Linked DNA regions of Homo sapiens: all the other regions are linked to region 4. The links come from fine-mapping of genetic effects on gene expression. A gene starts in region 4. Each other region holds a variant in brackets. All regions are shown on one strand. Distances are from middle to middle.

The links. PIP is the estimated chance that this variant, and not a neighbour inherited with it, causes the effect.
Region 1: its variant is fine-mapped to the expression of HOMER2 in thyroid (GTEx, PIP above 0.99).
Region 2: its variant is fine-mapped to the expression of HOMER2 in prefrontal cortex (ROSMAP, PIP 0.95).
Region 3: its variant is fine-mapped to the expression of HOMER2 in whole blood (INTERVAL, PIP above 0.99).

The regions. Positions count from the first base shown.
Region 1 is chr15:82,876,472-82,884,579 of GRCh38, reverse strand. All of the region lies in intron 2 of HOMER2 (homer scaffold protein 2), which reads left to right. Among named protein-coding and RNA genes, the nearest start is that of WHAMM, 71 kb to the right of the region's middle. The variant A/G (reference allele first, on the strand shown) is at 3,620.
Region 2 is chr15:82,723,688-82,731,795 of GRCh38, reverse strand. It overlaps the pseudogene ACTG1P17. Among named protein-coding and RNA genes, the nearest start is that of AP3B2, 18 kb to the right of the region's middle. The variant A/TAA (reference allele first, on the strand shown) is at 3,657.
Region 3 is chr15:82,968,974-82,977,081 of GRCh38, reverse strand. It overlaps a transcript of HOMER2 not described here. Among named protein-coding and RNA genes, the nearest start is that of RAMAC, 13 kb to the left of the region's middle. The variant T/A (reference allele first, on the strand shown) is at 4,050.
Region 4 is chr15:82,949,154-82,957,261 of GRCh38, reverse strand. HOMER2 (homer scaffold protein 2) reads left to right here and starts at 4,542. Exons shown (of 9, transcript NM_004839.4): 1 at 4,542-4,731. The coding sequence starts at 4,727. RefSeq lists an enhancer at 4,792-5,292.

The sequences.
Region 1 (8,108 bases), 73 kb after region 4:
ACTGCTCAAGGAAATAAAAGAGGAGACAAACAAATGGAAGAACATTCCATGCTCATGGGTAGGAAGAATCAATATCGTGAAAATGGCCATACTGCCCAAGGTAATTTACAGATTCAATGCCATCCCCATCAAGCTACCAATGACTTTCTTCACAGAATTGGAAAAAACTACTTTAAAGTTCATATGGAACCAAAAAAGAGCCCGCATTGCCAAGTCAATCCTAAGCCAAAAGAACAAAGCTGGAGGCATCACACTACCTGACTTCAAACTATACTACAAGGCTACAGTAACCAAAACAGCATGGTACTGGTACCAAAACAGAGATATAGATCAATGGAACAGAACAGAGCCCTCAGAAATAACGCCGCATATCTACAACTATCTGATCTTTGACAAACCTGAGAAAAACAAGCAATGGGGAAAGGATTCCCTATTTAATAAATGGTGCTGGGAAAACTGGCTAGCCATATGTAGAAAGCTGAAACTGGATCCCTTCCTTACACCTTATACAAAAATCAATTCAAGATGGATTAAAGATTTAAACGTTAAACCTAAAACCATAAAAACCCTAGAAGAAAACCTAGGCATTACCATTCAGGACATAGGCGTGGGCAAGGACTTCATGTCCAAAACACCAAAAGCAATGGCAACAAAAGACAAAATTGACAAATGGGATCTAATTAAACTAAAGAGCTTCTGCACAGCAAAAGAAACTACCATCAGAGTGAACAGGCAACCTACAACATGGGAGAAAATTTTTGCAACCTACTCATCTGACAAAGGGCTAATATCCAGAATCTACAATGAACTCAAACAAATTTACAAGAAAAAAACAAACAACCCCATCAAAAAGTGGGCGAAGGACATGAACAGACACTTCTCAAAAGAAGACATTTATGCAGCCAAAAAACACATGAAGAAATGCTCATCATCACTGGCCATCAGAGAAATGCAAATCAAAACCACTATGAGATATCATCTCACACCAGTTAGAATGGCAATCATTAAAAAGTCAGGAAACAACAGGTGCTGGAGAGGATGTGGAGAAATAGGAACACTTTTACACTGTTGGTGGGACTGTAAACTAGTTCAACCATTGTGGAAGTCAGTGTGGCGATTCCTCAGGGATCTAGAACTAGAAATACCACTTGACCCAGCCATCCCATTACTGGGTATATACCCAAATGAGTATAAATCATGCTGCTATAAAGACACATGCACACGTATGTTTATTGCGGCACTATTCACAATAGCAAAGACTTGGAACCAACCCAAATGTCCAACAATGATAGACTGGATTAAGAAAATGTGGCACATATACACCATGGAATACTATGCAGCCATAAAAAATGATGAGTTCATATCCTTTGTAGGGACATGGATGAAATTGGAAACCATCATTCTCAGTAAACTATCGCAAGAACAAAAAACCAAACACCGCATATTCTCACTCATAGGTGGGAATTGAACAATGAGATCACATGGACACAGGAAGGGGAATATCACACTCTGGGGACTGTGGTGGGGTCGGGGGATGGGGGAGGGATAGCATTGGGAGATATACCTAATGCTAGATGACACATTAGTGGGTGCAGCGCACCAGCATGGCACATGTATACATATGTAACTAACCTGCACAATGTGCACATGTACCCTAAAACTTAGAGTATAATAAAAAAAAAAAAAAAAAAAAAAAAAGCAGTGGCTGGTGTAGAATGGACTCAGCTCATTTTGAGCAAACGCCACATCAGATTCAGCTTCTGTGTAAACTGTGGGCAGCCAAAGAGCACAGGCTCTTTGAGAAGGAAAGCTGTGGCCAACAGCTTCAGCAGCTGTCATTCCATGCCAGGCACAGCCAGCTCCTCTGCCCTGTCCAAGCATGTGTCACGCTCTACCTGGGGAGGGATGCATGGACAGCCTCTCCTCCTTCTGGAAGCAGTTGGTGCTACTCATCTCAGGAAGATCTGTACTCAGACCTGTTCTTTATTCTTAAAACACGAAGACATTTCCTTCTTCCCCGGGACAATGTTTCATGTGTCAGTTCCAGCTGTTGTCTAAAGACATGAGTGGGTGGGAAAACTTCAGTGTGTTGCCTCAGCATTGCCCAAGCTCTAGGGGATTATGTGGATCCATGTCAGTGTTGGGGCTGCCAGGAGACTGTGAGCTCTTTGAGGATGGCAGCCATGCCTGGCTCATCTTTGGAGTCCTAGCACCAAGCCAGGGTGGGCAACGCCATAGAAGGGGGTGGGGGAATGAGTGGATGATGAGGTCAGGCCTGGCCACCTTCTCTCCAGGCCTGTGGCAGGTGTACTGTGTCCACAGAAGGACAGCAGGGTCACTGCCAAGGGGGGACCCAAGGACCCAAACCTTGGGTTGTCCCTGTTTATAGACACTGGACAGATGGGAGCCACATGAGGGCATCTCCCCACTCCCAGCTTCTCAGAGCACTGCTATAAACCATGTGGCACATGCCAATAGGCATGTGATTTATGGTGAGTTTTTAGGCAGAACGGCCAACTCCATTATAAAGAAACTCCATTTTCAGAGCATTGGTTAATTGAGCCATCACAGCACTTGATTTCATTGTGCTGTTGGCACTCTTTCCAGACTGAGTTAATCACTGCCATCCTTATGAGAAACTGCCTGCCTGTGGACAAGACTTGCCTGAAGCAGGTGCTTCTCCTGGGAGCTCTGGATGACTCTGCTGCCCTTGGTTCTCAGTTATTTTATAGGATCACAGAAACCTGTATTGGAAGAGACCTTAGAGGTCATCCATTCTACAAATATTTAGCCACACCTGTTGTGTTGCGAGTGCTGCCTGATTGTGATGGTTCAGAGGATATCAGTATCCAAAACTCTGACTTATTTGGTATTTTCTTTTGGAAATGTAAAATTACTTTCAGGAACACATTCAGGCTCTGCTCGTCCACTCCTCATTAGAATTCACTCCTTTGAATAAATACAGAGCACCTTCTGTTAAGGGAGCAAGCATAAGGAAGGTTCCGAGCACACAGTAGGTTTTCAGTGAATATTTCTTTTCTTCGCTGTCTGTGATTTGTTGTTGTTGTTTTAAATTTTTAAAAAGCACCTGTTAATAACTACTCTTGGAGCAGGCAACATGTCTTTTTATTGCTGTAACTCAGTCACAGCCTCTTATGGAAAACTCCCAGGTTCATCCAACTTCATCTCCCTGGATTTGGGAAAGACTTCTCATGAAAGGAATCCGATGGGCCTGTCTCCCCCTGCCTGTTTCATGAGCAGCTTCCTCTGAAATCCAGAGCAGGTGAGACTGGAGACAGGAGAAACTTAGCATTTTGCTGCTTCCAAGCAGCTCTTGATTACCTGTGTTTTGTGCATTTTGTGACAACTTGGTCCCACTGATCTGCAGGACTGGGTCTTTTACTAGGGTGGCTTCTTTCTCTGTGAAAGTTTTAGAGATGACTCACGCAAGAAGAAGGTGTACACAGAGATGGGAGCCTGTATGAAGCTTATGCCTGGGGTGCTTTAGCACAGCCCCTTCTCCCTTCTGGGCTTTGGTTCCTTCCCCCAGGTCCGTTCTCCCCTCTCTCCAGGGGTAAACAGTTCTCATTCTGCTAAGTCATTCTGCCGCATTGAGGGC[A/G]CTCAGCTGTGCCCTCATCCTTCACACACTCACCCTTGGCTCCCAGGGCTGAATTCTTCCTTGGTTGCTGGCCACCTGTGGCACGTGTACTGCCAACTCCTTCACCTGCTCTTCCTTGGTTGCTTCCTTAAGTCAGCCTTCTGCCCTGGGCCTCTCTTCTTTTCTTCCACCAGATGACACTCTCCACCCGGTGACCCCTTTACTTCTCATCCCCCAGTTTACTCAAGTCTCGTATCTCCTCTGACGCCAGAACCCACAGGTCCAGCCACCTCCTCGGTCCCTAACACAATCTTCCAGTGTCTCCATGGGCGGGAAGGATACTACCTGCTGTTTTCATAAGCCTCTGCCCACTCTGAAGATTAGCCTCCCTAACAACTTTGTTATGGGTTTGTAGACTTTATTTTTAACCATTTGTATTAATAGGTACCATTCAATGTCTAATAATAAAGCAAACCCATATGTACCCACCACCCAGTGGAAGTACGTCTTTCATTAATACCTCAGAAGTCCTTCAATGGGCCTTTCCCTAATTAGATGCTCTCCCATCCACTCCTCAAGAGATCACCACTCTATTAAGAGTGTATTAAGCATTCCCTTGCTTTTCTGCATAGTTTTGCCACATGTGTATATATCGCTAAACCAGAAGTTGGCAAACTTTTTCTCTAAGGGTCAGAGAGTAATTTTTAAAAAAGTTTTTTATTCAGGTTGTACAGTCTCTGCTGCAGATATTTGACTCTTTTGTAGCCAGAAAGCAGCCATAGACCAATATGTAAATGAATGGGCATGGCTGTCTTCCAATAAAACTTTAATTACAAAAACAGGCCATAGGCTAGATTTGGCCTGAGGGTTATAGTTTGCTGACCCCTGCCCTAAATAATCTGTTATTCAGTTTTACCTGTTTTTGACCTTTATATGAATAGAATCATACTAGAGACTCATAATGTATGTGTTCTTTTGTAACTTCCTTCTTTTTTTTTAATGTTAAATTTTTGTGATTCATCCATGCTGATCAATTTGGTTAGCCTTGGTTAATTTTCCTGCTGGATTAGTATTTCATTGTATGGAAATACTGCAGTGTATTTATCCATTCTGTTGGTAGTGGACATTGTTTTTGCAAGTTCTACTGTAGGTAAAATGCTGTCAAGTAGCATTGCATGCTACAGAGAAATCTTTTGTGAAAGGAAAAATCAACCAATGCAGCAAATATTGTTGTCTTATTTTAAGAAATTGACACAATGACTCCACCCTTCAGCAACCACCACCCTGATCAGTCAGCAACCATCAGGATCGACACAAGTCCCTCCATCAGCAAAAAGATTACAATTTGCTGAAGGTTCAGATGGTCCTTAGCATTTTTTAGCAATAAAATATTTTAAAATTAAGGTATGCAGATTGTTTTTATTTTTTAAGACAATGCTATTGCAAACTATGATTTCTTTATTTTCTTTCTTTCTTTTTTCTTAGAGGTAGGGTCTCACTTTTGTCACCCAGGCTAGAGTACAGTGGCACGATCACGGCTCACTGCAGCCTTGACCTCCGGAGCCCCAGGTAATCCTCCTGCCTCAGCCCCCTGAGTAGCTGGGACTATAGGTGCACAGCACCATGCCCTGCTAATTTTTGTATTTTTAGTCGAGATGGGGTTTTGCCATGTTGTCCAGGCTGGTCTCGAACTCTTGGGCTCGAGCAATCCATCTGCCTTTGCCTCCCAAAGTGCTGGGATTACAGGCATGAGCCTGCAAACTACGATTAATATATTCAAGGAAACAGAGGGAAAATGGACAAAATAGATGAAAGGAAGGAGAATACTCCCAGAGTCTTAGAATTTTTTTTGAAAGAGCCAAATGGACATTCTAGAACTAAAAAATAACAATGTCTGAAATTAAGATAACAATGGATAGATTTAACAGCAGATTGGAGACATCAGTGGCCAGGATTAGTGACCTGGAAAGCAGATTAATAGAAAATACCCAAATAGAATCAGAGAGTACCAAGAATCAGGGAAAAATAATTGATGAGTGTAAAAAATATTGTGCATGGCCAGCATGGTGGCTCCTGTCTATAATCCCAGCATTCGGAAGGCTGAGGCAGATGGATTGGTTGAGCCCAGGAGTTTGAGATCAGCCAGGGCAACATGGCGAAACCCCATCTGTACAAGAAATACAAAAATTAGCTGGGCATGGTGGTGCACACCTGTAATCCCAGCTACTTGGGAGGCTGAGACGGGAGGATCACTTTAGCCCAGGAGGTCGAGGCTGCAGTGAGCCATGTTTGTGCCACTTCACTCTAGCCTGGGCAACAGAGCAAGACCCTATCTCAAAGAAAAATGAAAGACCTAGCATGTCTGTAATTGGAGTCCCAGAAGTAGAAGCAAGGAGAGAGAATAGAGCGGAAGCAATATTCATGGAGAGAATGAGAATTTTCTAAAAACTGATGAGTCTACAGATTTAAGAAGCTGAATGAACCTCCAGCCATCGTAAATAGACTTAGCTCTAGAAATCAGTCCGTTGTTGCTTTGTAAGTAAGACATACATTATATTCTTTTTAGCCACTTATTAGTTTTATGACCTTGAACAGGTCCCTTGACCTTGTTAAGCCTCAGTTTCGCCATCTGAAAAAAATGGGGGTTAAAGACTGTGAAAAAGTGCCCTAGAAACTAAGTTTTAAGGAAATAGCAGGGGGTATCACCATTGTTATTCTAGCTTGACTGCCTCTGGGATAGCCTGTATGGGGTGAGCTTAAGAGCCATATCCTATACTCTGGCCAGCCTCTTTCCACTGCCTTTCAAGGAGACTTGGGGTGTGGTGACTGACCTAGGGGCATAGGCCTGCAGTGAAGTAGCAGCAAGATTTAAAGTGAATCCAGTTTCTGAATGGATGTAGTCATTGCTTTGTCCTCCCAGGATTCTGGTAATTGAGAGATGACCAGGGTTGGCTTTCTGGGGTCACGTGATCCATCCTGATCCAGCTCCCAGCCACACACCTTCCTTAGGTCTGTCTTGGTTCCACCATATCCACCCTGCTTGGGGCTGAGCCAGAATCCCCCCACCCTCCAAGGTCCCATAGCTTTCCCCTACACTTGCCAGTAGTTTAGATCTCCATTTTCCACGCCCTGCTTCCCTGCCCCCATCTCTTGATAGTGTCCAGTGACAGTAGACAGATCTCTTGACTTCTCATGTTGCATTCAGTTTTCCAGATGGAAAACATTTGGTAAAATGTCCTGACTCAGATGGACATTGGCATTATGGAAGGGTTATTATAAAGAAAGGAAAAGTCAGCTGGACCGTAGCACATGAACATCAGTACTTCATAGATGGGGAAAAGAAGAGGGGCAGTAATGTTTCCTTCATCGTGTATAAAATGAGAAGCAACATGATATGGAAGTTTATAGGACAAGTCTTGGAGTCAGACAACTGGGTTTTTATCTCTAGAGTCTCCTACTGGCCAGCTTTAATGTGTTACCTTAAGCAAGTTAGTTTAACCTTTCCCAAATCTCAGCCAGGTGCGGTGGTTCACGACTGTAATCCCACACTTTGGGAGGCCAAGGCGGGCGGATCACCTGAGGTCAGGAGTTTGAGACCAGCCTGGCCAACATGATGAAGCCCCTTCTCTACTAAAAATACAAAAATTTGTCGGGTGTGGTGGCGGTCACCTGTAATTCCAGCTACTCAGGAGACTGAGGCAGGAGAATCGCTTGAACCTAGGAGGTGGAGGTTGCAGTGAGCCTTGATCATGCCATTGTACTCCAGCCTGGGTGACAGAGCAAGACTCTGTCTCAAAAAAATCAAACAAACAAACAAAAAAACTTTCCCAAATCTCAGTTACTTCTGTGAAATGAAGGAATAGTCGTATGCATAGGCTCGTTGTAAGGTTTAAGTGAACTAATATAAATGAGGCACTCAATAAGTGTTCAACAAATAGTAATTGCTGTTGTTAGTATTCTAAAAATTATTTTACCAGCTAAGCTAAGGTTTTCTCTTGAGCCAGTGGCTTATCAGCAAACTCAATAGTCTGATAGATAGATAAATGTAGATCTAGCAAGAGCAATGATACTTCTGTTACTACTGACAGCTGTCACTTACTGTCTAGATCCCTTTAGTTAAGGCAACGGTTTGTATCTGGAAGGTCTGTCCTTTAGCAAAAGAGTAGACTCAGGTTCCTACCACAGAAAGCAAGCCCTATGCCATTCAAACTTTTTTTGTCTTCTCTGTTTTATCAGTTACAAGGAAAGTGTTCTGAGTTGACCATTGAGAATAAACAACCTTAGTAAGTAAAATTGCTGGTAGGTTCACTCTTTAGAATACTTACTTAGATTGCTCTTATTCCCTGTTCAGATCATCTGATGGGGAAGCAGCCAGTGGTTATTGCTACCCTGCCCTTACATAGACACCCAGTAATCCTTTATTTCCAAGAGTATTTTTCCTGAGTGTTTCTTAGAGTCCTAGGGCTTGCAATGATTTCTACTGAATAAGCCATTGTTGATATTTTATAAC
Region 2 (8,108 bases), 230 kb after region 4:
TCCTTTCCCCTCTGATCTCCAATGCCCCCTCTGTCATATCAAGCTTGCATATGTGTGGGTCTGCTTCTAGGACCTCTAATTTGTTCTATCAATCATTTTGTTTAATTTTGAACCAATACCAGAGTATCGTAATTACTATAGCTTTGTCATAATGATACAGGAGGTAGAAAGAAATTACTTAGGCAGATAGTGAGGTCAGCAGAGTCTTCAGCAGAGCTTCCAGTCTAACAAAAAGCCCAAGAATCTTTTTTTTTTTTTTTTTTGAGACGGAGTCTCGCTCTGTCGCCCAGGCTGGAGTGCAGTGGCTCAATCTTGGCTCACTGCAAGCTCCGCCTGCCGGGTTCACGCCATTCTCCTGCCTCAGCCTCCCGAGTAGCTGGGACTACAGGCGCCCACCACCACGCCTGACTAATTTTTGTATTTTTAGTAGAGACGGGGTTTCTCCTTGTTAGCCAGGATGGTCTCGATCTCCTGACCTTGTGATCCGCCTGCCTTGGCCTCCCAAAGTGCTGGGATTACAGGCGTGAGCCACCGCACCCAGCCAAGAATCATTTTTTTCCTAACAAAGAGCAGCCTGACAAATCAAGCTGCAAACATAAATAAGGAAGCTAGAGGCTTGCTGGGGGAATGCCGACAGCTGTGCCAATAGAAAAGGGCTACCTGGGGACCAGGCATGTCCACCCTGGAGGTTTCATCTTCCCTTTTTTTGTTACCATGTGTACAGTAATAGATAAATGGGCAACATGGCACAGCTCAGGCAGAGAACCAGCCAGCATAATAGAAGATTAGGGTGGGGGCTACCAGAAATTCGTGCCCTATGCAAATGGCACACCTGATATAACCAGTTTTTTGCACCCTAGGTAAATCAGACACCGCCTATTCACCAGCTCATCTATAAAACCCCCTGCATTTCACCGCAGAACTGGAACCTATTTTACCAGGACCCCTCTCTGCAGCAGAGAGCTCTTCTCTTTCTTTCGCCTATTAAACTTCCACTCTTAACCTCATTATTTGTGTGTCCTTGTTCTTGTTCTCCATGGCCGTGGGACAACGAACCTTGAGTGTTACTCCAGAAAACGAGGCTGTTTCAATAAGACTAGATAGTTGATAGAATAAATCCTCCCACCTTACTCTTCAAGAGTGTCTTGGCCACTCTTGGCCCTTTGCTCTTTTATTTGCATGTTAGAATCTATCAAGCTCCTGGCCAGGCACGGTTGCTGATGCCTCCCGGGTTCAAGCAGTTCTCCTGCCTTAGCCTCCTGAGTAGCTTTGCAGGTGCCCGTCACCACACCCGGCTAATTTTTGTATTTTTAGTAGTGACAGGCTTTCACTATGTTGGCCAGATTGATCTTGAACTCCTGACCTCATGATCCACCTGCCTTGGCCTCCCAAAGTGTTGGGATTACAGGTGTGAGCCACCGCACCCGGCCAGCTGTTTTTAAACATAGGGTTGTTATCATTTGGCAGGAGAGCAGCAGGTGCAGCATATAGGCCACATCCTCACTCCCATGATAACAAGCCACTTCAGCCCCTGATTGACTGCTGGTCGGGTCTCGGTTTCAGCCAATCCTTCACGGTGTAGCCAATTGGAGGCCTCTACAGGGCATCAAGGGGTGTTGCTAGGTTCCTTTAGCTTAATAAAAACCGTAATTGAGAAGGCTCTTGAGCTGCTTGCAGGAGCCCACTCCTACTCTGCGAATTGTCTTTAATAAACCTGTGCTTTCGCTCTTTCCTTGCTCCGTTCTTTTGTTACTTTGTCCAATTCTTTTTTTTTTTTAATTTTTTTTTTGAGACGGAGTCTTGCTCTGTCACCCGGGCTGGAGTGCAGTGACACGATCTTGGCTCACTGCAGCCTCTGCCCCCCCAGGTTCCAGCGATTCTCCTGCCTCAGCCTCCTGGGTAGCTGGGATGACAGGCACACGCCACCACCCCTGGCTAATTTTTGTATTTTTAGTAGAGATGGGGTTTCGTCGTGTTGGCCAGGCTGGTCTCAAACTCCTGACCTCAGATGATCCACCCACCTCGGCCTCCCAAAGTGCTGGGATTACAGGTGTGAGTCACTGTGCCTGGCCTTGTTCAATTCTTTGTTCAACACACCAAGAACCTCAACAACTCTATCCAGTAACAATACCTTTTCCACTCAAATCCCCAAACATTCTAAATATGAGTGTTCAGATGTTCCCATACTTGTGTGAGAAGATCCAGGATAGTGATCAGTTCTCTATTTTTCCCGTTGGGACCTCAGACCCACAAATAAAAGCACATGTGGGAATTCCATAGAAGATCACTAAAGGTTCTCCCAAGTTCAACACAGATGAACAAATCCATTTGGACATATATACATTCATGGTTACATATAGAGGAAAATGCATTCTCTTTTGAAGAGGCCAGATAATGGTAATAATCTGTGATATGACACAACTTTAGAGGAAAATTTGTTCTTAATTGCTTAGTCCCTGTTGCTTGGTTGGGAAGGGAGGCATCTGTAGCATTCCCCTGGAGGTAGGAATCAACTATGGAATCAACAGTCCAGAACAGAGGGATAGACAGGTAGGTCCTCTATGCTTTTCCTAGGCTCTAGGAAGCATCAGTAAGTGAAAAACCAGTTTAGCTGGATGCTATAAGAGAAGTCCTGTGTTACTATTGGGGAAGATTGATATGATAATGGCAAGAAAGATAGTGGTGATGACCTTCCTGATTTGAAGATCTCTACATGTATTCTCTCAGAATGGTCCTAAAGAGAGGTAAGAAATGATACCTTATGAGAAACTGTCAGGACTGAAACTTCATGAAGACGTGTGTCCTGCTCTCTCCACAGCCCCATCAGCCAAACAGACTGAAGTTCGTCTGTGTTGTTACCCACAGGGTTCAACTGCAGAACAGCTGAGTTGTGTGTCCTTTGAACCTTAAAGTTAAGACCCTTAACAGTCATTCTAAAATGGTTGTCTGTACTCTTCTTTTGAGAGGATCAAATAAATCAATATTATAGCACTTTGAAAGAGTCTGAAGTGGTGTTATTTACCAGTGAACATGAATCAAGAACTAGAGTGGAAGAAACCTTAATCCTTAACCTACTTAAGTTAGGAAGGAAGATCGGAAAGGATGGCTAGGAACAACCCAACTCAAAGGATACTCAAGTGTCAATCACTCTTTTATGTCCCTTCTTTTGTCAATCACCTCAATCACTCTTTTATGTCCTCTTCTTTTTGTTCTTCCCACCACTGCCTTAATGAACACATTCGTCATTTAATTATGCATTTGCCCTCATCCAGCAACCCTAAAAAAACTTGCTTTCTCTGTTTCCAGTTTATCTTTTATACTGGCCCCTCGTTATTCTTTCAAACATATCTAGGCCAGGCGCAGTGGCTCACGCCTGTAATACCAGCACTTTGGGAGGCCAAGGTGGGCGGATCACATGAGGTTAGGAGTTCGAGACCAGCCTGGCCAACGTGGTCTCTACAGAAATACAAAAAAATTAGCTGGCCATGATGGTGGGTGCCTGTAATCCCAGCTACTCGGGAGGCTGAGGCAGGAGGATCGCTTGAACCTGGGAGCCGGAGGTTGCAGTGAGCCGAGATCGTGCCATTGCACTCCAGCCTGGGTGACAAGAGTTGAGACTCCATCTCAAAAAAAAAAAAACTATATATATATATATA[A/TAA]TTACACAATTTCTATGGCTTAGACACCTTTATTGGCTCCTTAGGGAACTGCAGGATGGATTAAGTTATCTCCGTGGTATATAAAGTCCCTTCCACTCATATTTCAACCTTATTAAATATTCTGTAAGAAGCAAATATTAACATATAATGGATGCAATCAATAGAGACAAAGCCACATACAAGAAACAATACCTGATTATTAGCTAATCAAGTCTATAAATATCATGAATGGAGGCCAATAACACAAGCTCTAGGGTAACTACCTAGCAGAGCTGGGGACCTTGGGCGGTTGCTTAGCCTTTCTTAATAGGGTCTTCATCTGTAAAATGGGGATACTTTTAGCAGATGATTTTCCACACTATACTCAAACTCATAGAGTAAAAATAAAAATCTCTTTTCCAATAGTTAAGCCCCACACAGCTGAATCAACAATGCCATGTCTCAACATATTGGCTCCTGAGGCAAATAAAAAAATGTGTGCACCATACACTTTGTAATATATTCTTAAATTGTTGCTTTTTTCAGAACGCGGAAGTGGTTGAAAAATACAGAAAAACTGAAAAGTGTATTAAAACTCACAATGTTATTTAACCATTTTATTTATACCAAAATAGAATAATGTATTACAATTTTAGGTAAAAATTATTTAAATTTCTCCCTGGCTGGTGCCAGACCACACTCGACATTGTCTCATCATTTCCCCGACAGATCACAATGGAAGCAGAAATCACCTTGCTCATTGTTGACAATAGCTTTGCCATGTGCAAGTCTGCCTTTGCTGGGGACAATGCCCTCAAGTCATGTTCCTCTCCATTGTCAGGCACCCCTGGCACCAGGGCATGATGGTGGGCAGGGGCTAGGACTCCTATGTGGGCGATGAGGCCCAGAGCAAGCAGCATCCTGATCCTGAAGCACCCCATGGAGCAGGCCTCATCACCAACTGGGACCACATGGGGAAGATCTAGCACCATACCTTCCGCAATGGGCTGCACGTGGCCCCTAAGGAGCAACTGGTGCTGCTGACCGAGGCCCCCGAGCCCCAAGGCCAACAGAGAGAAGATGATTCAGATCATGTTTGGGGCCTTCAACACCCCAGTCAAGTACAGGGCCATTCAGGTCACCCTGTCCCTGCATGCCTCTGTCAGTGCCATTGGCACCATGGGGGACTCAGGCGATGGGGTCACCCACACTTGCCCATCTCCAAGGATACAGCCACCCTCTCCCAGTCATCCTGTGTTTGGCCCTGGCTGGCCGGGACCTGGCCGACTACGTGGTGAAGATCCTCGAGGGGCCCGCTACAGCTTCATCACCACAGTGAAGTGGGGGATTGTGCGTGACATCCAGGAAAAGCTATGCTGTGTTGCCTTGGACTTGCAGCAGGAGATGGCCACTGCCGTGTCCTCTTCCTTCCTGGAGAAGAGCTACAAGCTCTCCCACAGCCTGGTGGTCACCATCAGCAATGAGTGGTTCTGGTGTCCAGAGGCGCTGTCCCAGCCCTCCTTCCTGGGCATGGAATCTTGCTGCATCCAGGAGACCATCTTGACCTCCATCATGAAGTGTGATGTGGATATCTGCAAGGACCTGTACACCAATGTGGTGCTGTCTGGCAGCATTGCCATGCACCCAAGTATCACACACAGGATGTAGAAGGAGATCACTGCCCCAGCACCCAGGACCATGAAGATCAAGATCATGGCTGTCTCTGAGCACAAGTATTCCATGTGGATCAGCAGCTCCATCCTGGCCTCACTGTCCACCTTCCAGCCAATGTGGATCAGCAAGCGGGAGTGCCACCAGTCAGGCCCCTCCACTGTTCACCGCAAATGCTTCTAAATGGACTGTGATGAGATACGTAGCCTGTGCTGCCTGAGTCAATTCAGAAGTACAAATTTGTCCCTGGAAAATGTATACATCTCATGCTAGCCTTAGGAAACTGGAATAAGCCTTTGAAAAGAAATTTGTCAGGCTGGGTGCAGTGGCTCATGCCTGTAATCCCAGCACTTTTGGAGGCCCAGGCGGGCGGATCACCTGAGGTCGGGAGTTTGAGACCAGCCTGACCAACATGGAGAAACCCCGTCTCTACTAAAAATACAAAATTAGCCGAGCATAGTGGCACATGCCTGTAATCCCAGCTACTCGGGAGGCTGAGGCAGGAGAATCGCTTAAACCTGGGAGGCAGAGGTGAGCTGAGATCGCGTCATTGCACTCCAGCCTGGGCAACAAGAGTGAAACTCCGTCTCAAAAAAAAAAAAAAAAAAAAGAAAAGAAATTTGTCCTTGAAGCTTGTATCTGATGTCAGCACTGGATTGTAGGATTTGTTGCTGATTTTGACCTTGTACTGAAGTTAAATGTTCCCTTGGTATTTAATACCTTGTACTTATCTTTGATTTAAACCCTTAGTACATGTGGCTTAGTCACTTCATGGCAGAGGTGAGAACATGCTTGTGGAAGAGAAGTCCGTGGCTTGGTGATTCTGCCTGACCTGCAGTCTCTCCATCTGTGCAGGGTACTAATGTGTCGGAGCTCAGGGTTCCAGAATTCGTCTAGAGACCGGCAGGAGCTCCTCCACCAGTTGTCATTTCTGTCTTGCCCGTCTGTCAGGGTTGGAAAAGTCCAAACCTTAGGACCCAGTTTCCTTTCTTTCCTGATGTTTTCCTGCCAGGACACCGGTAGGCTGTTACTTGCCTTGAGCTGGAAGAAGTTTGCATTTACACTGTAAATGTATTCATTGTTTTAATTGATGTAAGGTTTTTATGTACAATTCTTAATTCTTTAAGAGATGACAACAAATTTTGGTTTTCTTTTTTTTTTTCTGTGGCTAATCTATTTTTAACCACAATCCCAAGATAATTCAGTGGGGGAAAAGACCATTTCTATAAATGATGCTGGGACAACTGGATATCTACATGCAAAAGAATGAAGTTGGATGCCTACCTCACACCACATAAAAAATTAACTCGAAGTAGATCAAAGGCCTAAAAGTAAGAACTAAAACTAGAAGCTCTTAGGAGAAAACGTAGGTATACATCTTTGTGACTTTAAAGTAGGCAAGTTTCTCAAATATAACATCAAAAGCAAAGCATTGGCAGGGCGTGGTGGCTCACCCCTGTAATCCCAGCATTTTGGGAGGCCAAAGCAGGTGAATCACTTAAAGTCAGGAGTTTGAGACCAGCCTGGCCAACATGGTGAAACCCTGTCTCTATTAAAAATACAAAAATTAGTTGGGCGTGGTGGTCATAGTCTCAGCTACTCAGGAGGCTGAGACACAAGAATCGCTTGAACTGGGAAGTGGAGGTTGCAGTGAGCCGAGATTGCACCACTGCACTCCAGCCTGGGAGACAGAGTGAGATTTCGTCTAAAAAAAAAAAAAAGAAAGATCTACAAATGGCCAATAGGCACATGAAAAGATACTCGACATCATTACTCATCAGGGAAATGCAAACCCAAACCACAATGAAATATTACTTCACAGTTGCTAGAATGGCCATAATAAAAAATACAGATAAAAACAAGAATTGGTGAGGATGTAGAGAAACTGAAACATTGCTCATGGAAATGTAAAATGGTGCAGTTGCTTTGGCAAGTTTCTTTAAAAAGTTAAGCAGAATTTTCATATGACCCAGCAACTGCACTCCTAGGCATATACTCAAGAGAAGTGAAAACATATGTTCAAACAAAAACTTGTACATGAATTGTCATAGTACCATTATTTATAATATTCAAACAGTGGAAACAATCCAAATGCCTATCAACTGATGAATGGATAAACAAAATGTATATACATAAAATGGAATATTATATGTTCATTAAAAGGAATGAAGGCAAGGCGCAGTGGTTCATGCCTGTAATCCCAGTATTTTGGGAGGGTGAGGTGAGAGGACTGTTTGAGCCAGGAGTTTTGAGACCAGCCTGGCTAACACAGTGAGACCCTGTCTCTATTAAAAAAAAAAAAAAATAGCTGGGTATGGTGGCATGTGCCTGTGATCCTAGCTACTTGGGAGGCTGAGGTGGGAGGATTGTGTGAGCCTGGGATGTCAAGGCTGCAGTGAGATGTGATCATGCCACTGTACTCCAGCCTGGGCAACAGCAAGACCCTGTCTCAAAAAAGAAAAAAAAGGAATGAAGTACTGGTACATGGTACAACATGGATGAATCTTGAAAACATGCTCAATGAAAGAAACCAGTCACAAAAGGCCATACATTATATAATTCCATTTATACAAAGTGTCCATAATAGATAAATTCATAGAGACAAAAAGCAGATTTGTGGTTATTAGGAGAGGAGAGAATAGGGGAGTGACTGCCTAATGAATATGAGATATTTTTGGAGGGTGATGAAAATGTTCTGGAATTAGATAGTAGTGATGGGGCCAGGTGAGGTGGCTCATGCCTGTAATCCCAGCACTTTAGGAGGCCAAGGTAGGTGGACAACCTGAGGTCAGGAGTTCAAGA
Region 3 (8,108 bases), 20 kb before region 4:
CTAAAGATTCTTAGGATTTTTTTTCACCCCACAAACATTGCTATACAATATATTTCTGGGCTTAGTGTTGGAGGAGTGAGGAGAGTTAAAAAAAAATGTGGAACACAGCTGGGCACGGTAGCTCACGCCTGTAATCCCAGCACTTTGGGAGGCCGAGGGGGGCAGATCACCTGAGGTCAGGAGCTTGAGACCAGCCTGGGCAACATGGTGAAACCCCGTCTCTACTAAAAGTACAAAATCAGCCAGGCATGGTGGCGCATGCCTGTAATCCCAGCTACTTGGGAGGCTGAGGCAGAATTGCTTGAACCCTGGAGGCAGAGGTTGCAGTAAGCCAAGATCACGCCATTGTACTCCAGCCTGGGCAACAAGAGCAAAACTCTGTCTCAAAAAAAAAAAAAAAAAACCACACACAAATCTTAAGATCTAATCGTACTAATTGTAGAGTCAACCAGAAGATAGTTATGATGGTAATATATGCAGTATATAAAATAGTGTGGCCTCATGCCTGTAATCCTAGCACTTTGGGAAGCCGAGGCGGGTGGATCACCTGAGGTCAGGAGTTCGAGACCAGCCTGGCCAACAATGGCAAAACCCTGTGTCTACCAAAAATACAAAAATTAGCTGGGTGTGGTGGTGGGTGACTGTAATCCCAACTACTTGGGAGGCTAAGGCAGGAGCATCGCTTGAACCCGGGGTGCGGAGGTTGCAATGAGCTGAGATTGCACCACTGCACTCCAGCCTGGGCGACAGAGCGGACTCCGTCTCAAAAATAAATAAATAAATAAATAAATAAATAGTGCATGATAATCTAATGGGATGCAGGGAGAGATAATTGCAACTAGATATATAAGTATAGAGGTACTTCAGGGTAAAGGAAGAATAAGAGGAAAGTGAAATTAACCCTGAGAAATTTACTGAAGAAGGTGATTCTGCAACAAGCATATACACGGAGTGCGTGCACACACACACTATGTGGATTGCCAGAAGTGAGCTCCTGTGAGGAATATGGATTCTTGGGTGCAGAGGATGCAGACTGACCATTCTTTTTAAATTTATTTTATTTAAAATTTTTTTAATTTTAATTTATATGGGTTCATGGTGTATATATTTATGGGACACAGGAGATGCTTTGATACCGGCACACAATGCGAAATAAGAACATCATGGAGAATGGGGTATCTATCCCCTCAAGCATTTATCCTTTGTGTTACAAACAATCCAATTACACTCTTAGTTATTTTCAAATGTATGATTAAGTTATTATTTACTGTAGTCACTCTGTTGTGCTATCAAATAGTAGGTCTTACTCATTCTATTTTTGTTGTACTATTTAACTATCCCCACCTTCCTACCATGCCACTACCCTTCTTAGCCTCTGGTAATCATCCTTCTACTCTTTATCTCCATGAGTTCAATTGTTGTGATTTTTAGATCCTACAAGTAAGTGAGAACATGCAATGTTTGTCTTTCTGTGCCTGGCTTATTTCACTTAATGTAATGACCTCCTGTTCCATCTATGGTGTTGCAAATGACAGGACCTCATTCTTTTTTTACGGCTGAATAGTACTCCATTGTGTATATGTACCACACTTTGTTTATCCAATTGTCTGTTGATAGACACTTAGATTGCTTCCAAATTTTAGCTATTGTGAACCGTGCTGCAGCAAACATGAGAGTGTAGATATCTCTGATATGCTGATTTCCTTTCTTTTGGGTATATACCTAGCAGTGGGATTGCTGGATCATATGGTAGCTCTGTTTTTAGTTTTTTGAGGAACCTCCAAAATGTTCTCTATAGTGGTTGTACTAATTTACCTTCCCACCAACAATGTATGAGGCTTCCCTTTTCTCCACATCCTCACCAGCATTTATTGCCTGTCTTTTGGATATAAACCATTTTAACTGGGGTGAGATGATACCTCATTGTAGTTCTGATCTGCATTTCTCTGGTGATCAGTGATGTTGAGCACCTTTTCATATGCCTGTTTGCCATTTGTGTGTCTTTTTTTTCTTTTTGAGACAGTCTCTCTGTTGCCCAGGCTGGAGTGCAGTGGTGCAATCTTGGCTCACTGCAATCTCTGCCACCTGGGTTCACGTGATTCTCCTGCCTCAGCCTCCCGAGTAGCTGGGATTACAGGCGCCCACCACCACGCCCAGCTAATTTTTGTATGTTTAGTAGAGACAGGGTTTCACCATGTTGGCCAGGCTGGTGTCGAACTCCTGACCTCAGGCGATCCACCTGCCTCGGCCTCCCGAAGTGCTGGGATTACTGGTATGAGCCACCACGCCTGGCCTGTATGTCTTCTTTTAAGAAATGTCGGCTAGGCACAGTGGCTCACAGTGGGTCCTAATTCTCTTGTAGAATACTCTTCAGAGACAGACTCCAAGACTGCTGCATTTCCCTGTGGGGTGACTCACAGAGCTCTTTACTAGTCTTCTCTCCCAAGTGCCCCCAGGGAGCCCCTGTGCAATATCATCCCAGTCATATTTGGAATATGAACTGTGACCCTTACCTAGGGAAATATGTCTCTCTCCTCAGATTAGAGCATATTCATTCTAATTAGACATTGTCGTGTATTGACTCTGTTTTCACCATGGTAGGTAGAAGTCTGCCCCTCCCATAGGTGAGTGGAGAACCTTTGCTCTATGGAGACCTTTAGTATTTTTTTTTTTTTTTGAGATAGAGTTTTGCTCTTGTTGCCCAGGCGGGAGTGCAATGGCGCGATCTCGGCTCACTGCAACCTCCACCTCCCGGGTTCAAGCTGTTCTCCTGCCTCAGCCTCCCGAGTGGCTGGGACTACAGACACGTGCCACCACGGCTGGCTAATTTTGTATTTTTAGTAGAGATGGGTTTTCTCCATGTTGGTCATGCTGGTCTCGAACTCCTGACCTCAGGTGATCCACCCGCCTCTGCCTCCCAAAGTGCTGGGATTACAGGTGTGAGCTACCACGGCTGGCTGATCTTTAGTATTTTTAAGTGGGAAGGACATTGGCTTAATTTTTTCACCCAGGCTGGAGTGCAGTGGCACGATCTCTGTGCACTGCAACCTCTGCATCCTGGGTTCAAGTGACCCTCGTGCCTCAGACTCCTGGGCTCAAGTGATTCTCCTGCCTCAGCCTCCCGAGTAGCTGGGATTACAGGTGTGCACCACCATGCCTGGCTAATTTTTGTATTTTTAGTAGAGACAGTGTTTCAGCATGTTGACCACGCTGGTCTTGAACTTCTGGCCTCATGTGATCCGCCCACCTCAGCCTCCCAAAGTGCTGGAATTACAGGCATGAGCCACCATGCCTGGCCAGACATTGGCTTTAGATGGATGCAGATGACCTGAGTGACTTTGCTGAGATTCTTCTCTGAGCCTCAGTTTCCTGATTCCAAAATGAGATTATAATGATTTTATGAACTATGATGTGTTTTCTATAGCCTAGATGATAAGCATTAACAAACAGTTGCACTGTTTTCCAAACCAAAATAAAACACTCTAACTTGGCTTGAGAAGGGAGAGGTTCTAATACAAACATTTTGTCATTGTCCTATGAAAACAACCATGTTAAAATATGAAGACTACTAGCGCTACCATTATGTAGTAAATACCGAGCATTTACTACATGCCAGGCACTGGGCAGAGCTTTATATTTATATTTACTCATTCTCACAACAACCTACCTGGCTACATATTATCCCTCTCTTACAATCCAGGCTTACAGATGACGGGCAGTTATGATAAGCAAGCAGGAGAAATGAGATTTAAAGCCAGTTCTTTTTTCAAAGCCTGTGCCCTGCCCATGGAAGGGATAACTCAGGAACCTACAGAAAAACATATTTGAGGCATATTTCTGAGACATAGGAGCTGGATGGCAGGGTGGTCAAGATTGCTCTGTGGTGAGAGACTAGAATGCAGATGTTTTGTGGTTTTGATTGAAGCAAGGTCTGTTTGCTTTCATATTAGACACTGCTGTAGCCAGAAGTTGGAGCCTGTCAGGGTTCAAGAGACAACCTGGACACAGTTTATAGTTCCTTTTACTTTGACTTATTCCTGAAGCTGGAG[T/A]AGAGCAGTGCAAGATATAAATGAGACAAGGAGGCAGGGAGGCTCCCTGTTGCCTGCCTCTTTTGTACCTCATGGAGGTATACTCCGAATTTAATGATTCTTGAGAACTCACAGAGAGTAAGATGTCCACCAGATCCAAAGCATGTAGAACTGTGGGCTCACTGCTTAGCACCCAGATACAACTTTTACCTCCATATAAAGCATTTTGTTACTCAGAAGGCCACGTCACCTGCGGTTATTATCCATATCTGAGGCTTTGAAATTCCTGCTGTGCCAGCACTTGAGGCAATCTCCATTTTCTTGTACCTCTACTGCAGTGCCTAAGAATTTTCTTTCTTTCTTTTTTTTTTAAGGCAGAGTTTTGCTCTCGTTGCCTAGGCTGGAGTGCAGTGGCGCCATCTCAGCTCACTGCAACCTCCACCTGGGAGGCCCAGGTGGGCAGATCACCTGAGGTCAGGAGTTGGAGACCAGCCTGACCAACATGGACAAACCACATCTCTACTAAAAATACAAAATATTAGCCAGGTGTGGTGGCACATGCCTGTAATCCAGCTACTCAGGAGGCTGAGGCAGGAGAAGAATTTTCTATTTATTTCCACTCGGGTGCTTTCCATGGCCGACGTGGCCATGGCCTGCAACAGACACACCAGCATAAAGTTGCATTCTATTGTAAAACTTTAAGAACATAATTTGTATTCTTAGCCAGAAGGGCACCCCACCTTCAGGTAGAGGTGCAGGAGTTCTTGGATGGTTAAGGCCAAAATTTTCTTCAAAAAAGAAGCTCTGATAGAGACATAAAGCAGATTTGTGATTGCCTGGGTTAGGGTAGGATAGGGATTGACTACAAATGAGCATTAAGGATCTTTTTGGGCTAATGGAAACATTCTGAAACTACATAGGGGTGATGGCTGCACACTCCATAAATGTGCTACAAATCATGAATTGTACACTTACAATGGGTGAATTTTATGGTAGGTAAATTATACCTAAGAGCAAAAGAAGGAAGGGAGGACGCTAGCAAGCTAGCTCGAATATACAACCTTGAAGCACTTGGTTGAAACCCCAGGATAATATGGCACAGAGAATAGAAGAGGAGATTTAGGCCTGGAAAACCTTAAGGGCAGGAGTTAATGATTAAAATCTTAGTGTCCAGACATCTACCTTTGAGTAGTCTGTGTCCTGATGTACCTCTTGGAAAGATGACAGTCATAATATTACTATTGGCTGTGGCAGAAATAGCTAGTTCCCTCCCCCACCCCCATATCAGTTCTGTTCTGTCCTTGCACAGTAAAGGAAGGGTTTTGAAGCACTGGCCCAGAACTGGACTGATTTTAGCACAGTCAGAGATTAATGGCAAGAGCCATAGTTTCTTGCTTCCAAGAATCCTCTAAAATCTATTTAAAATTTTAAATAAATTCTCCACTGTAAGGTTGTTGCATCTAAAGAGAAATGTCAAAGTGAAGCTGGCTATCCATCCAGGCTGGATAGTGACACAATTACTAAAATTTATTTGAAAATGGTGTCAAAGTAGAAAAAAAAATGATACCCTTAGCAGCTCTGCCTCCTCAACAGCTTCTGTTTATCTTTCTCTGTGTCTGTGTGTGTGTGTGTGTGTGTATGTATCTGTCTCTCTTGCTCTCTCTCTCGCTATCTCTCTCTCTCTCACCTGATTCAGAATTCTTGAGAAAGGATAGGAATCACCAATGTTAGAAACGAGCCATGCCCCAGTGCCCTGTGGAAGTTAGGACTACAGGAAGGAGCACATGAGCTTCCTCTTCCCTACCCCCCATAATTTTACTTACCTGCACCTATGGCACGATCCAGAGCCCAATCTTTAGCTGAAAACATCCAGAAATCCAGAGCTGCTCATTATCAAGAATTGGGTTACGTTAACCAAGCTCATGATGTTCTCAGTAAACAGGTGCCCGTGTATTAATTTACAATGAGGAATACATCTTCCCTTTGAATGGACTGTTTTCTTCCCATCAATAATTCAGGGAGTCCCTTCCTTATGTCTGGGTATCCAGGAGTTACCAGGGGCCATGGACTATGGCTTTTCACCTCTGTGTCCTCAGCACAGGCTCTGGAACACAGCTGGTGATTAACAAATATCTGCCAAAGGGAATTGAATTTTGCCAGCGATAAGGCTTATTTATCTTGGGCCATTTTTAGACAAACAGGAGCTGGAGATATTTTTACCCACATATTATTGTAGTCAAAGGCTGTTTCTTAGCCACAACATCCATGCAAAACACAGCATGGCAAGAAGAGGCCATTTTTTTTCTTACACAGCTGACTCCATTTGAAAGAAATTTTATCTCAGAGGATTTACCTAGCAAGATATCAATCTACTTCGTTTTGTTTGTTCTCTTTTCCTTTACATTCGACATGAATGCTATAAAGGATTCTACTATGGCACAGGTAATAATAGCAAACACAACTATAGAGTCTCCACTGCCCATCCTTGAAATAGATTATTCAGTAGAAGAAGAGCAGTGCTGTCATTTACTGAGTTGTATGGGAAGTAAGGATCAAAACCAAAGATAAAAAAAGAATTATGAGTCAGTGGAGTCCAATTTAGCCTTGATGGTAATGTGAGGCATGTTATTAGGTCCATTTTCAGGGAAGATTACATTGTTTGGAAGGAAGTGTCCTATCCATTTTTCAGAGCCCTGGTGATAAAATCACTGGCGATAAGAAACCTCTCTCAGGCCCCAAAACATAGGCCTCTCCTTCTCTTGGGCCCTCTCAAATTATCTGCTGATCTAGATACTCCTAATAGTCCCCAAGCCCTGCTGACAGCTCTGTCCTCCCCCTGCCTCAGGCAAGAAAAGTTTCTGGTCAGGTTGAGGAGGTCTTGCTCAAAATTCTTCTCATTCTGCATACTCTGCATGTGCAATTGTATCTATTCCTATGGCTTCAGCTACCACCTATAAGCTGGATGGAGCCTTTGCCCCTCACTTACCATGTATGATCCTCACAGTGTTTAGGCATGAGTTATTTTCCACATGATAATCCTCTTTCACCGCCATCAGATATCCTAGGTCTCTTTTCATCCAGCTGTTGTGTTCGTTTCAGTTAAACAAACATTTATTCCATGGGTGTGGCAGGCATCTTCTGTAGTTGTTGAGGATACAAAGGTTCTATTTAAGTTAATTTTCCTCTATTTCATTTATAGAGTTTTTTATTTTTATTTTTACTATCCAGTAATTGTTGGAATTTCTAAAGTGTTAACTTTCAGTTACTGTTCTCTTTCTATCCCTGCATCTTCCCTAAGTTTATTACTATGGTTTCAATTTCATAAAGATAATTTTCAAATAAAACGTCTGGCTCCATGTCTTACCTATCTCATTTACTGTATGCACTTAGATGTCTCTTCGTCTCTTTAAGTAAACATTTATTGTAGCTTTAGTTCCTGGATCTCTAAAATGCAGAAGTGAATGAGGAGTGTTCCTTGGTCAGTAGGTGTATGTGAACCTACCCACAAAGGCTGAGGGAGCTTAGAGGACGAAGAAAGAGGCTGACAAACCCAGCTTCTCAGAGGGAAACATTTCATAGGGACTTATGAACAGAAGTGATGTCTAGGCAGCCATAAGAATCGTAGATCCCCGCATCCGCCCTTTATAAATAGCAAGCTTTTAGGGTAAAGACGTGCAGCTAGTCATGTCTTCAGACTTTCTTCCAAGATTCATGACCACTGGGGAGGTTAGGTAAGCATCTTTATGAGGGTTTATCTGTGTACAGCGTTGCTTCAAGACCTTACTGCAGAATACCTTTGTGTGTGGAGATCAAACATCATGGCAGTTTCGCCCCAAGATGGTGTGACTCTTGCCATGCAGTAGGCTGTTTTCCTACAGGAAGCTATTAAGTTATGGTGTATCGATGCAGTGCAGTTTTAAGCAGCTATTTAACATGCTTACAAACAACTATGGATAATTCTTCTGCTTCTCTATCCACTTTCTGAATTTCCTCAATGAGAATCCCTTTTCTAATCAGAAAAAACATGAGAGGACATAAGTGATGTGATCAATTATGTCTTAGAGAATAAGGTGGAAGAGA
Region 4 (8,108 bases):
TGTTGCCCGTGCTAGAGTGCAGTGACACAGTATCTTGGCTCACTGCAACCTCTGCCTCCTGGGTTCAAGTGATTCTCCTGCCTCAGCCTCCCGAGTAGCTGGGATTACAGGCATGTGCCACCATGCCCAGCTAATTTTTATATTTTCAGTAGAGACAGGGTTTCACCATGTTGGTCAGGCTGGTCTTGAACTCCTGACCTCAGGTGATCTACCCGGCTCAGCCTCCCAAAGTGCTAGGATTACAGGTGTGTGCCACCACACCTGTTCTCATTCACTCTTCTTAATAGTCCAAAGAGATATCGCCACTTCGTAGATTAGAGCGCTGAGGCTCAGAGAAGTTAAAAACTTGCCCGTGGTCACAGATAGTCAATGGTAGATCCAGGACTTAATGCAGGTCTGAGTCTAATACTGATGCCTTTACCCTATATTCCTTCTGCCATCCTAATAAACTTTTTCATTTTCTATACTCCAGGCCTTGTCCATATTTTCTAATTTTACATAATTATACTCATAGCACAGCTGTAATTCAGATTATTTTACAAACTTAACTTTATATCCTAATACACATCCCATCCACCAAGTCTTATTGAGTCTACCTCTAAAATATCTATAATCTGTAATCCACTTCCCTTCATCTCCACCCTTATCTTTTGTCTAGAGCCTCTTAACCAGTCTCCATGTTTTACTCTTGTCCCCTTCTTATCCCCTCTTCTCCCAGGAGTGAGTGATATTTTAACAATATAAACCAGATCACGGCATTCCCCAACCCATCAGTGGGTTCTCACTGCATTTGAATAAATTGCAAATCCTTAATCCAGCCAAAGGGCCCTGCATACTTCACCCATGCTTTGCTAAGCTCACTGCACTCTAACCACACTGGCCTTCTCCCAGCTCTTCAGAACAGCATGATTCTCTACCACCTCAGGGCCGTTGCAGTTTCCTCTGCTTGGAACCCTCCCCTCATGCTCCCCATGACTGATGCTTCTTTGTCTTCAAGCCTCTTCTTTTTTTTTTTTTTTTTTGAGATGGAGTCTCAATCTGTCACCCAGGCTGGAGTGCAGTGATGCAATCTCAGCTCACTGCAACCTCTGCCTCCTGAGTTCAAGTGATTCTCCTGCCTCAGCCTCCTAATTAGCTGGGATTACAGGCATGTACCACCATGCCTGGCTAGGTTTTGTATTTTTAGTAAAGATGGGGTTTTGCCATGTTGGCCAGGCTGGTCTTGAACTCCTGGCCTCAAGTGATCTGCCTGCCTTGGCCTCCCAAAGTGCTGGGACTACAGTCATGAGCCACCACACCCAGCCATCAGGCCTCTTTTTAAATGTCTCTTCAACAGGCCATTCCTGACCATCCTCCTCAACCTAAATTAGGTCTCCTATTCACACAGATCGTAGCTTATATATTTGTGTGATTATTTGATTAATACCATTCACACAATCTTATAGTCCTATGACAGAAGGACGTCTGTTTTGCTGAGCACTTTATGCCCAACACAGTACCAGATACACAGCAGGTGATCAACATTTATTGAAAGAATAAATATATTTCTATGTTACTATATAGGCTTCACAAATATAATGTAATAGCTGCATAATACCCGACAGTTATCCCTTTAATTAATGGCTTTAATAATACATTTGTTTCATATGCAGTTGAAAGAACTGACCTTTTATGGTTAGAAAAAAAAATGTTTGAAGTCCCTGGACCAGCCATACCAGAAATCTGAGCACACTAATAACAACATTATGCATGTACATGGTGAGCCTAATTTTGCTGTTGAAAGTAAAAATACAGGCCGGGCATGGTGGCTCACGCCTATAATCCCAGCACTTTGGGAGGCCGAGGCAGGCGGATCACAAGGTCTGGAGATCGAGACCATCCTAGCTAACATGGTGAAACCCCATCTCTACTAAAACTACAAAAAAGTAGCCAGGTGTGGTGGCATGCGCTTGTAGCCCCAGCTACTCGGGAGGCTGAGGCAGGAGAATTGCATGAACCCAGGAGGCAGAAGTTGCAGTGAGCCAAGATTGCGCCACTGCACTCCAGCCTGGGCAACAGAGTGAGACTCCGTCTCAAAAAAAAAAAAAAAAGAAAAAGAAAAAGAAAGTAAAAATACGTAGATTATAGGTTTTGAAATCAATTTAGTAGGTTATGAGCAGTACTGCTTTTAAAAATAGAACAGAATGGGCCGGGCACGGTGGCACACGCCTGTAATCCCAGCACTTTGGGAGGCTGAGGTGGGCCGATCACGAGGTCAAGAGATGGAGACCATCCTGGCCAACATGGTGAAATCCTGTCTCTACTAAAAATACAAAAATTAGCTGGGGTGGTGGTGCGCGCCTGTAGTCCCAGCTACTTGGGAGGCTGAGGCAGGAGAATCGCTTGAACCTGGGAGGCGGAGGTTGTGGTGCCCTGAGATCATGCCACTGCACTCCAGCCTGGTGACAGAGCAACACTCTGTCTCAACAACAACAACAACAAAACAGAATGATGTCTGAATGCCTGCCTGGCAAGTGAGAGGATAAACATTGTTTTATATAACTTTTTGTTTCTATTTTATATCGATATACCTATAGACATAGTATGTATGTGCTGAAGTATGTACCAGGTTGCAGGTTGTAGTGTAAAATATATTTCTTACTGTGGATTGTAGTTTAAAAAAATGAAAAACTCGGCCAGGCACGGTGGCTCATGCCTGTAGTCCCAGCCCTTTGGGAGGCCGAGGCGGGTGGATCACGAGGTCAGGAGATCGAAACATGGTGAAACCCTGTCTCTACTAAAAATACAAAAAAAAAAAAAAACTGGGCGTGGTGGCATGCGCCTGCAGTCGCAGCTACTGGGGAGGCTGAGGCAGTAGAATCGCTTGAATCTGGGAGGTGGGGGTTGCAGTGAGCCGAGATCACGCCACTGCCACTGCACTCTAGCCTGGGTGAGCAGAGTGAGACTCCGTCTCAAAAAAAAAATAATAAAAATAAAATAAAAATGAAAAACTCTGATTTCAGTGGCTTGCCTTTGAAGTTATTCGAACACTTCAGAATCCTCAGGTATTACCTGATAAATGACTTGTTCAGTGTTCTACAAGCTCACTTTCCTGATATTGCTGATTACTATGCATGGAGGATTTGGAAACTCCCAAGATTATTTTATTTTTTACAAACTTATTTTGTATTTATTTATTTATTTTTTTGAGACAGTCTGGCTCTTTTCACCAGGCTAGAGTGCAGTGGCATGATCTCGGCTCGCTGCAACCCCTGCCTCCTGGGTTCAAGCGATTCTCCTGCATCAAGCCTCCCGAGTAGCTGGGAGTAGCTGGGACTACAGGAGCACGCCACCACACCCGGCTATTTATGTATTTAATTAATTAATTTATTTATTTTTTGAGACGGAGTCTCGCTCTGTTGCCCAGGCTGGAGTGCAGTGGTGCGATCTCGGCTCACTACAAGATCCGCCTTCCAGGTTCACGCGATTCTTGTGCGTCAGCCTCCGGAGTAGCTGGGACTACAGGCGCCTGTCTCCACGCCCGGCTAATTTTTTTTGTGTGTGTGTATTTTTAGTAGAGACGGGGTTTCACCGTGTTAGCCAGGATGGCCTCGATCTCCAGACCTCGTGATTCGCCCGCCTCGGCCTCCCAAAGTGCTGGGATTACAGGCGTGAGCCACCGCGCCCGACCTGTCCCTTGACTTTTTTACTGTCCTGAGATGCCAGGCTTATGTGGGCGGTGTGTTCCCAGCAGAAGATGATCCCGTGGAAGTCCCGGGGGATGAAGGTTAGGTTAGTCCCAGTGCCAGCCTTTGGTAGAAACTCAGGACCTGATAGGTAGAAAGGCGACGAAGAGAGCCTGCTCTTCTTCAAGTTCTACTTTTGCCATCCTAATTCCCCTCGCTCTAAGGATAAAACCAAGCTTGATGAAGCCGCCTTAAAACTGCCCCTTCAAGTGGGAGCCCTCATCTCATTTTTATCCAGGAAAGAGCCCAGAGCATCTGCCGCGGCCTGTAGGCTCTTCTCTGCCAGGCTGGCTTCCGAAATTTCACGGTGGCGGGTACCTTAAGGCCACTCGGCCGGGCAACTGGCAGGAAGATGAAGGTGGGCTTTAAGGAGGAGCACAGCTATGCCCATCTCAGACTCTGGAGACCCGAACGAACTCTAATCTGAATGTGTGACCTTGGGCAAATCACTTACCCTCCCCAGGCCTCGGTTCCCTTATCTGCAAAGTAAAGGTAGCCCTAAAGTCCCCGCCAGGTGTGAATGGGACTTTAAGTCCATCAGGCAGGATGTTGATGGCACTGCGCCAGGGCCCCGGGTCGGCGTGGGGCGGGGGCGCGCCAACGCGGGGCCGGCACCGAGGACTGGGTGGCCCGGGAGAAAAGCGGCGACTGCGCGGCTGCGCGGGGGACGGTGCACACAGTGCTGCGCCCCCCGCCTCTTGGCTCGCTGCCGCGGCCCGGGGGCCACGAGGTTACGTAAGGAGCCGGGCGGGGGTAGCGGCTGGGGAGGGCGGGGCGGGCACCGCCCCAGCGCGGCCGCCCAGCCCCCGCCCGCCCGCGCCTGGCGGCGGTGGCGGCAGTGGCAGCAGTGGCAGCCGCGCAGCCCCGCGGAATGGAGCGGCGCCGGGGCTGAGCCGGGCGCGCACGGGCCGCCGCATGTGCCGCGCGGGGAGCGGCTGCCGAGCGGGCGGAGAGCGAGCGCGAGAGGCCCCGTCGGAGCGGCCGCCGGAGCAGCGCCGGAGATGGGGTGAGTGAGCCCGCGCCGCGCGCTCTCCGCGCGCCCCTCCGGAGGGACTGCGGGGCCGCGGCTGGCGTAACCGGGCTCGGAGCCTCCCGGCGGGCCGGCCCCCGCCTCCCCAAGCCGGAGCGAGCGCACACTCTGCGCCCGGGAGTCTGGGGCCACCTGACCCGCGCCCTCCGCCGGGGCACGCGGACACCCAGCAGGGGCACCCTGGCCTGGGCGCGGAGCCCGTGGCCCTTCCCCTCCCATACAGCCCGGGCACGGGGGCACCTGACGGGGACCGGTGCCCTGGCCGGCCTCCTGCCTCGGCCATTCCGCGGTCTCTTCGCCCCTGGGCGCAGTCAACTCCAGGGCCTGTGTGAGTCTAAGCAGTTTGTCGTTCTCCACGTTTGGATTTATTACAAGCAAAATGGAAATCGAAGTTTTCCTGGAAATAATCAAATAATAATAAACCTCCAGCGTAGGAATAGTGGACTTTGGATCTGCTTTGAGATGCTGAAGATGATGGAAGTCTATAAGGAACCTAGGTGAGGCTTCAGTCTTTGAAACAACTGAGTAGATGCTCAGGAGGGAAGTTGAAATACTCTGTCGAAGTGACTAATGCTTCTGAGTATATAAAGTAATTTAAGCTTTCCCCTCGGCGTCTCTCTGAGCAGTAGGCTCTGTGAGTCTGGGAGCCACTGTGCTAATAGCACAATAACTCCTTACATCTGCTCACTCTATTTGGGCACACGTTGACGGTTTGCCATACGTATTCAGGGGACACTTATGTCCACTTTACAGATGAGGAAACTGAGGCACAAAGTGGTTCGGTGACTTCCCCCAGGCTGTGTAGTTGATGAGCATTTGTGTAGCAGGGGTGGCCTTGCCACTGCCTGACGTGGGCATGGAGGCGGGTAAGTGAACCAGAATTCCTAAATCTCTCTGTTCCCTGCTGCTGAACCCAGCATTCTTCCAACAGCCCTTCGCAGGACTCAAATGCTTCTGCTCCAAGGGTCTAGAGATCTTGCTTTCCTGTTTGGGATGGGTGGGGCCTGGGAAGGCAAGAGTGCAGTGGAAGGAGCAAGATTGTCCTGGTGCCCTGGCTCAGCCCCCCTGGGTCAGTGGCTTTCTTGCACCGTACTCCAGGTTAAGTTTCTGGAGTCATTTTGCCTGGTGAGTCTTAGCCATGGGAGCTGCAGAGTGTGTGAGGGGATCAGAGGCAGGCCAAGAGGAATTTTGAGGAATGGAAGTGTGAGGGCTGTGGGCCAACATGAACTGGACATGACAGAGGTGGGTGACAGAGAGGAGGAGGCGAGATGAGCAGCGAGGGCTGAAGAAGTGTGCTTACATTTAGGAGATTTCACATGAACAGCAACTGTGGGTGATTTTACCCAGAGGCACCCAAGTTGGCAGGCCGTATTTCTGTAACATTTCCAGTGAGTCCTCAGTGGACTGTGAAAAGGCTGATCTTTGAGCAGTGAGAGCCTTTGAGGTTCTCAGATTTCATACTTTAAAAAAATGTACAGGGAAAAAGGAGTTGGCAAATGTAAGGTCTCAGAATGGAAGATAAAAGGGATCCGGTAATTTTAACTCTCTTTCTGGCCCTCCCTCCCCCTGGCCAACACAAAACCAATCCACCGTACTTGTGTGATCAAAAACAAGTACTGAAACTCTGTGGTTGAGATCAAATAGTTCTGTGGAAATGAAAATGTTTACTCACTCATAAAACCTTAAAGAAAATGTCAAAAAATAATTTTTGTTTGTGGAGAAGCAGGGAGGAGACGCTTGGGGATTTTGTTTAAACACAGAATATGTCTTTCATGTAATTTTAACATCATTCGATAAATGTATATATTACTCACTTCTCGTAGATAAAGGCTGGTTTGTAACTCCTACCTACCTCTGCCATTTTTAATAGATCCATGTCTTCTATTATTTATGTGAAAATACAAGCCATGGTCGTAAATTGAGATGCAGCTAAGGGCTGGGGAAGCAATTCAGACAGGAGGGTGGAGGGAGCCGTTTTAACTGAAAATAGAACCAATGTCATCCTTTCTGAGAGTTGTGTAGGATGGAGGGGGAAGAACTTTTTGAAAGGGCAGCTAGTAGAAAACCTTGCTGCGATCCTACAGCTTCGTCATGGCTCTGCTGTGTAGACAGGACTAGGATTTAAGGGAAAAAAAAACAAACTATCTGAGTTTACCTCCCCCCAACTTGAGATGCTTCTCCTCCCTCAAATGTTCACTACCATTTTCCACTTCTCTTCTGCGAAGTGTTCTGTGTTAAGTGTGGCCTCTCCAGTGAGTTTGTGTTCTTACTCCCTAAGGCAACTATTTCATACCTATTCCCCTTTCCAGACCTCTCCCCTTCCTAGGCACACCCCGTGGCTTCCCTTTCAATTGACAAGATAGGCACCTTTGACCAAGGGAATGTCTTCATTTTGCCACCACCTAGTCTAGTATGCAGCTGCTGCTACCTTCTCCTACCTGCCTGCTGTGCTGGATGACCTGTCCCTCATCTCTTCCTACTAGGGGCCCCTTCTTCTGGGGTAGCCTCCATTCCATCCCTTCCTCCTCCCATCTTTTCAGAGATTGTCTCTCCTTCCTAACCACCTTTCTCTCCGGGGTCTTCTCCATCAGTATAGGAGCATACATCTGACCAACAGAACTTTCTGCACTGCTGGAAATGTTCTGTATCTGCGTGGCAGCCACCAGCACATGTGGTTATTGGACACTTGAAATGTGGTTGTTGAGACTGAGGACCTGAATTTTTAACTTAATCTAAATTTAAATAGCCACATGTAGCTAGTGGCCACCATATTGGATAGCATAGCTTTAGTTGCTCTCATCTTAAAAAGGAGATCTCCCTCCCTCCTACATCCCTCTCCTGTTTCACTTCTTTGCTCTTCTTCACCTGAAAACACCTCAGAAGATACATCCAAACCCACTGGCTCCATTCACTTTCTCCTGCCATTTGTTCACTCTCCATACTCTACAGTCTTGCTTCTGCCTCACCTCTGCACCAAAACTGCCAGGGTCTTGGGTGACCAGGGGGTTGCCAGATCTCAGCCTCACCTCACTTCACCTCTCTCAGCAGCATTCCTAACAAATGACCACTCCCTCTCCTCAAAACAACACCCCTCTCAGCTCCTCTGGCCCCACTGTTTCCTGCTTTTCTTCTTACTCCTAATCATGGGGTTGCCCAGGGACTGGTCCTGGTTCCTTTTCTCTGTCCACACTGTCTTCCTAGGTAATACTGTCCCACCTGCAACTCCTCCCCACCCTCCCATGGCTTCAAATGCCATCGATATGCCCATGATGCCCACACTTTAATTTCTAGCTCAGATCTTTCTTGGAGCTTCTGACTCTCGTCAATACATGGAGCTCTTGATATGCCTTCCA